Homo sapiens: one gene and its partner. The protein of the gene in region 2 interacts with the protein of the main gene of each other region in a biochemical or structural test. Each region holds a gene or a part of one and is shown on either strand. Other genes may lie near its edges.

Region 1 (3,758 bases), on a different chromosome or scaffold from region 2:
CCCGGGTTCAAGCGATTCTCCTGCCTCAGCCTCCTGAGTAGCTGGGATTACAGAAGCAAGCCACCACACCCAGTTAATTTTTGTATTTTTAGTAGAGACGGGGTTTCACCATATTGGTCTGGCTGGTCTCAAACTCCTGACCTCGTGATCCTCCTGCCTCGACCTCCCAAAGTGTTGGAATTACAGGCATGAGCCACTGCATCCGGCCTGAAAGGAACTTTTATCAGTGTATCTTCTCTCAGCTCCTCATGAGGCTTATCCTGGGTGGTGTGTGCTGGAGGCTGGGCAGAGGGTGCTTCTTAGACAACTTCCAAGGTAAGTTCATAGGCAACATTTCCTTTGCTACTCTCTCTTTTCTTCTCTCTCGTCCTCAGGATTACCCTCTGCATCTTTTCCATATGAAAACCCCATTTCCTCTTTCCTTTATTGAATGCCCCTCAAAATCAGAACTTACATCATTAGGCATTATTCTCTATTTCCTTGATGATATGGAGGATGAGATTTTCAGACACTATGCAGAGGTAAGGGGAAATATTTATATTCTGCATGAGAGTTGGGAGAGGGGAGAAAGAAATCCTCCACCCCAGATCGGGTTAATTCATCAAAGCAACTCATTAAATTTTCGTGTTAAAAGAAGTTGAACATTCACACTTCGCTCTACTTGGAGCTTCATTAAAATGCAAATGAACACAGAAGGGTATCTGTTCTTAGTTATCTGGCCTAACTAAAGATTAATTGCAAACCCTTTCCTGAGAGTAATTTTTGATAAATGAGAACTAGGGGGAAATTAGGTGCTTGAGAGAGATGCAGAAAGGGCACAGCTGGAGGATGTGACAAGAAAAGAATTGGAAAGACTATGGGAAGGTTTTGCTGTAGCACTGCACAACTAAAGTTATATTTACTTCCTAAACCACAAACTTAAAATACGCATATAATTATACTTTCCAAAGAAATATCATGGTTTATTCCTTCCAACTACCTATGAATCTTGCTCTCAGTAACCATGCCTGTCTTCTCCATAGTCACACCCACCTGGTCTAAACTATACCTTTCTCTTTTGCAACAAACTTAAATTCACTAACCCTATCTGTGAACTTGGATACAATTCCCTCATCTTTCATGTGCCACCAGTCCAAAATAAAGATTTTCAATGCTAGTAACTTTATGTATACCTCAGTGAGCATCCAATAAATTCTGTACTCTCAGCCTACATCCCCATAACTGCTCTTTTGAGAAGAGATGAGACCAGAACACACCTGAGATGTTCAAAGCAAAGATGTCTAAGGGATTCAAAGCTAACTTCAAACCAGAGCATGTCTAGCAAGTTGGCTTTTTCAAAGAACTCCAACATCATTGGAGGGACTAAGAAAGCATGGGAGAAATGAATGCTATAATAGGAGTGAATGGGAAGCAATTTGAGACCAAAAGTAGAGAATCTAAGTAGCAAAAAATGACCAATTTTGTAAAAAAATCAAAAGTTGCCAATAAATGGCTATCAATGAACAATAGGAAATGCCATTAGCATCAGCGGTAGTGGGAGTATTATCAGATATGTTACCCAAGGATTCTACACAAAGGAAGAGGAAAGTTTGGGATATTTGAAGACATGATGACTTTACTGTAATAATTATTATCTATTACCTTGATCGTCTTCTTCAAAGTTAGAGTGGTCTAGGGAAGCTAGGGACAAGTTTTTATTAACTTTGTTAGTCTACCCACCTTTCTCCCAACACTTCAAGAATTTGTGGCCTGGGAAAACTGTGTTATAATAGGACATCCCAAAGCTGCTGGAACATCCTGACGCTCTGAAATTGAAATACTTTTCTGGGAGCTGATACATTTATTTAGCTGCTGACCATAACACACCAAAGACTGCAACAGACCCCACCCTGGAAGAAAAGCAGGCAGAGAATAAGGAAGTCATATATCACTGGAGAAAAATTAGGATTCTCCAAGCTGTGCATACTTTTTGTTTTAAATTTTTTACACAGGCTTGACAATGTTTAGAAAAGCCAGTCCAACATTACCAATAAAAGATTAGTGTTTAACCCCATATCCCATAATTGACACTGCAAATAAGACATTTAGGATTTATCTTGAAATTCCTACTGAAGTTCGATTTTCTTTTAATCACTGCTAAATCTGCATCAAGTTACACAAACTTTCTAACAGAAAAGTGTTTGTGACTAACAATAAATGAACTCCGTTCTTAGTAAGTTAATTTTAAAACATAGATGATCATTCTATCTCCTTAGTTTTGGTTGCCAATGCAAATGAGTCAGAGGATTTGCTTCAGACACTGAGATAATTGTGTAACTCTACAGCGGAAAATGCCATTGGAGAGTACTTGCTGACCTCACAGTTGAAAAAAACTATTTAAAAGATGTGGAAACCAGATGTTTCAGTCACATTTCAGCCACTGCTCTGAGAATTTGTGAGCAGCCCCTAACAGGCTGTTACTTCACTACAACTGACGATATGATCATCTTAATTTACTTATTTCTCTTGCTATGGGAAGACACTCAAGGATGGGGATTCAAGGATGGAATTTTTCATAACTCCATATGGCTTGGTAAGAACCTTCACTCATGAGCCTCTTGTTGAGAATGTCAATTCTTTAAATCATGGAGAAGGAAATTTAAAGCAGTAACTTTTTCTATTCTGTACAAGGCTGATGTTCTCAAAGAAAATGCTTAGGAAAGATAGCCTTTGGAATACATACGCTTTTTTTTTTTTAAGCGTTCTTGTCCTCTAAAATTTAAAAATAGCATTTTATAAAGTGAATTGTTCAGTAGAAAATAGCAGTTAATATTTATATTCAGTATGAAAATATATTTTTAAACTTTTCAAAGCAGATGTAGTAGTACAGTGAGGAGTATTTCTTTAACCAACTAGAAACTCCAATATAGTCTTCTGTTTTTATGTCAATGCATTTGCAATCAGATTTCAGAATCCTAACAGGTAAATTGGAGTCTACGAAAATTTTATAATAATTGCTTCATGGACTCTGAGCTATAGTCTATATCTTAGTTTTTTCAAACATTTTGACTATTTTGACCAAGCCAGCTTGCAGTACAGAAAAAAGTGAAAAATGTTTCTCCTTCTGAATGCATTCTTACCACTTTGATTCTTTCTGTTTCTACTATCCATATAAATACTTTTCTGACCCTTTTGTTAGACAAGGAAAGTTTCTTTTGTTATTTTGTTTTGTTAAATGTAAGGAATGAGACAGGCCAAACAGTGAAGATAAACAATAGATCAAAAAAGGAAAATGCAGAAAATCCAAAACACCCCTTAGATTACAGTATGCTAAACAATGCTTTAATTCTCATGATACAAATTGATATTGCTCTATGTTCATTATTGTGTTTAATAGTAAAAAAAAATTGAATTTCTTGGGGAAAAATGCATAGATTCTTGCATAGAATAAAGAAATAAAGAGAAGGCGAAATTAACCTAGATTTTGATTTTATGCTTTCTAAACAGCACAGTTGTAGAATATTTTCCCTTTCAGCATGTTTCTCTCTGGTAATAACTGCAACCATGCGGATTTCATTAAAAAGCCTAATTTGTAATGCACAGCCTTGCCGCCTATTTTTTTCAGCTTGAGCCAGTGAACTAATTTCACTGTGATCCATTTGGCCAAGACGGGATCTGAAATTTAGTAGAGGAATGAGCCCATCTCTTTATTTTAGTTGAATACAGTCAAATATAGGAAATACACTCATATTTGTCAGGATTTTTTTTAAATGTCATAA
Region 2 (3,758 bases):
GAGCTTTACAAAAATAGTCTTAAATTAATACAAATCCCTTTTGCAATATAACTTATATGACTATCTTCTCAAAAACGTGACATTCGATTATAACACATAAACTACATTTATAGTTGTTAAGTCACCTTGTAGTATAAATATGTTTTCATCTTTTTTTTGTAATAAGGTACATACCAATAACAATGAACAATGGACAACAAATCTTATTTTGTTATTCTTCCAATGTAAAATTCATCTCTGGCCAAAACAAAATTAACCAAAGAAAAGTAAAACAATTGTCCCTCTGTTCAACAATACAGTCCTTTTTAATTATTTGAGAGTTTATCTGACAGAGACACAGCATTAAACTGAAAGCACCATGGCATAAAGTCTAGTAACATTATCCTCAAAAGCTTTTTCCAATGTCTTTCCTTCAACTGTTTATTCAGTATTTGGCCAGTACAAATAAAGATTGGTCTCAACTCTCTCTTTCATTAGTCTCAAGTGTTCCTATTATGCACTGAGTTTTCAGACCTTCCCAACTGGCATGTGTTTTAAGTGTGAGTTTCTTTCTTTGGCTTCAAGTGGAGTTTCACAACATTTATGAAACATACTGAGCTCCTCCATGTGGCTGGATCTCTGTGACTCCCCACCCAACAATATTCCCCCGGATGTGACAAGACTCTGCTCCTCCGGTCTCTCTTATCTCTTCATTGCTAAGAACACTATCCCAGATATTGAAGCCTGTGAGTCTCCCAGAGAAGGCTAATGTTTCATCAAAGCCACCACCCACACAGCAGCCATTCTTTTCTTGGCCAATCTGCAGGATTCCTCCCTCAGGAACAATGTGACCTGTGGCCATCTCAACAGTGGTAGCCGCCAGTTCACCATTTACCCACAAGGATGTGAGCCCTTCCTCTGAATTCCAGGTGCCGCACAGGTGGGTCCACCTTCCCAGGGAAACCATGGCTTCAGCAACCAGTTTGTTCTCCTCTCCACCCACCACAAACACTATGGATTGGTAGCTGAGATACAGCTGGATTTCATATGGATTCCTCTTTGTGCCATAGGAAAACAGGATGGTTTTGTTTAATACATCTGTGGCTTTGACCCAAATGCAGGCACTAAAAGACTCAAGCCTCATTGGTCTCACTGGATGCACGCTTCCAAAAATCTTCTTGGAACGCATTGGGAATAAAATAGCTGTTTCACAACCTAGAGTAGCAAGAAAATAAGAAGAATATTAAAGAAAATATAAATTAATTCAGAATTATTCTGGCATTAGTTATTTAACATAAGAATTTTAATTATTACAATTGAAAGCTATGTGAAACCCTACATTACGACTTAAGAAGCTTCCACTGTAATCTCTGCAGAGCAAAGAAAATGAGAAAAAGGAAAGCCAATTGTCTTATCCAATGAAGCATCTAAATGAAGAGAAAGCACGCAAATAGAAGAGCCAACTAGTCCAAACCCACAAAATAATAAAAGCCATAACTACCTCCCCTTCCAATTTGCATATTTTCTTTGTTACTGCTTTTTTTTAAAAAAGTTGAATCACTATCAGTTAACTTCAGACAATAATTCTATAATTTCCAAGAATTCAGAACCCAACCTGGTTCTCTCTTTTTGCCACCACCAAGTTCCTAAAATAATAAACCTGTGAAATTCAGTAGACCTAGTTCGCTCCATTTAGCCTTTACCAACATGCATTTTTCAGCAAAATTCTAGGATAGTGATGTTATTGCAGAATACATTTTTTTTTTTTTTTGAGACAGAGTCTCACTCTGTCACCCAGGCTGGATTGCAGTAGTGCGATCTCGACTCACGGCAACCTTCGCTTCCCAGGTTCAAGCGATTCTCCTGCCTCAGCTTCCGGAGTAGCTGGGACTACAGGTGCACACCACTGCGCCCAGCTAACTATTGTATTTTTTTTTTAGACACGGGGTTTCACCATGTTGGCCAGGTTGGTCTTGAACTCCTGACCTCAAGATCCGCCTGCCTCAGCCTCCCAAAATGCTGGGATTACAGGCATGAGCCACCACACCTGGCCTGCAGAATACATTTTAATACACCAAATGTTCTCAGATATTTGTAAACTTTGCAGAGTTTTTAGAAAACTACCTTTGAAAGGCAACAATGTATAATAATGATGACTAAGCTTATTGGGCATTCACTATGTATCAGATACTGTTCTAATCATTTTGTTTGTCATTTTAATCCTTATGCCAACCATAAGAGATAGTCTTTTACATTCCTATTTTACAGATGAGAAAACTTAGGTAAAAGTAACTTATCTATGTTTACATAGCTGATAAGCAGTAAAACTAGAGTTTGAATTTTTGCAGTCTGGTCACAGAGGCCACGCCCTTAATCAGCACACTACAGTGCCTCTTATTAATAGAACCCCTAGATTTCTCTAGGAGGGCTAGAATCCAGATGGTGTTACTACTAATGAGCCATGCAACTTTGGATGAGCACCATAATTTCCTCTAGGCTTTAGCGTTATCTAAAAAAGGCCCTTCCATTCTGCTCCTAATATTCTGCAAGTCTGTAAGCAGCAAGTATGTAGCACTTAAGAGCTGAATAGACCAAAAATGTGTTTAAAAATTCTACCTTGTCCACATGCTTATAATTACTATTTAAGCAGTAATTGAAAATCTTTAAGAGAAGTACATTCTTTCAAGGGGCCTGGTTGGAGAACATGTTTCTGCTAAAGAGCACTTGGGAGGGGGACTTTCAAATTTGAGGTGGAAAGCTCAGTAAGTTTCCACCATTGTCCATCTCAAGGCGACTTAGCCATTTGGGAAGCTGGAGATGCTGAAACGAAAACCTTTTACGTGTCCCTGGGAAAGAACAGGTGAGCTCTGCATCTATATACATAAATATATATATATGTATGTATACGTATATATACACACATATATACATATGGATATGTATGTATGTATACATACATATATGTATATAAATGTGTGTGTATATATATGTGTGTATGTGTATGTAGGTATTTTTTTAAAAACACCTAAATTAGGGCAGGTATAACAACCTAAAGAAGATATGCCATAAGACAGCTTTGAAAAGCAAACTCCCAGAATGGTTCCAGAATAACTGGTAAAGAGAAAGAACTTGCAGAAACCAAACATCCATGTAAAAGTGTGGTAAACTATGTCAGATTCCTACAAGTGGCTCAGGGGTAGGCTCTATCCTGAAAACATTAAACAAATATGAACCTTATCCTTTAGTGTTAGGGATAGTCAAATAAAATATTGGCATTCAGATAATCATATAAAAGTAACTACAATACTAAAACACAAAACTGGCTCTGTCATGCTTTGATACTTTTTCACTAAATAATTTGAACTTTTGAAGATTTTTTAAAATTAATTTTTAATGAGGCAGTGATTCTATTTTCAAATGAAATTGCTAGGTACATCTTTTCTTCCAGCTGTGTTAATTAAAATCAAATAAAAATCACTGAAAAAAATCACCATATCCATGGGCATTTGATATAGTCTCTATAAAGTTTCAATAAAGTAGTGTTCAATCACACCTGTAATCCCAGCACTTTGGGAGGCTGAGGCGGGTGGATCACAAGGTCAGGAGATCGAGACCATCCTGGCTAACACGGTGAAACCCCGTCTCTACTAAAAATGCAAAAAATTAGCTGGGTAAGGTGGCGAGCACCTGTAGTCCCAGCTACTCAGGAGGCTGAGGCAGGAGAATGGAGTGAACCCGGGAGGCGGAGCTTGCAGTGAGCCGAGATCGCGCCACTGCAC

The links. Proteins that work in one complex are often made in the same cells at the same time.
Region 1: the proteins of PTX3 (region 2) and TNFAIP6 form a complex in vitro, tested with the Homo sapiens proteins (one study listed by IntAct).

Annotation. Positions count from the first base shown.
Region 1 is NC_000002.12:151,355,189-151,358,946, forward strand, and holds the start of TNFAIP6 (tumor necrosis factor-inducible gene 6 protein precursor), read left to right. Parts: upstream 1-2,403; 5' UTR 2,404-2,478; coding exon 2,479-2,572; intron 2,573-3,758. UniProt on the Homo sapiens protein: Major regulator of extracellular matrix organization during tissue remodeling. Catalyzes the transfer of a heavy chain (HC) from inter-alpha-inhibitor (I-alpha-I) complex to hyaluronan.
Region 2 is NC_000003.12:157,439,802-157,443,559, reverse strand, and holds part of PTX3 (pentraxin-related protein PTX3 precursor), read right to left. Parts: intron 1,195-3,758; coding exon 581-1,194; 3' UTR 1-580.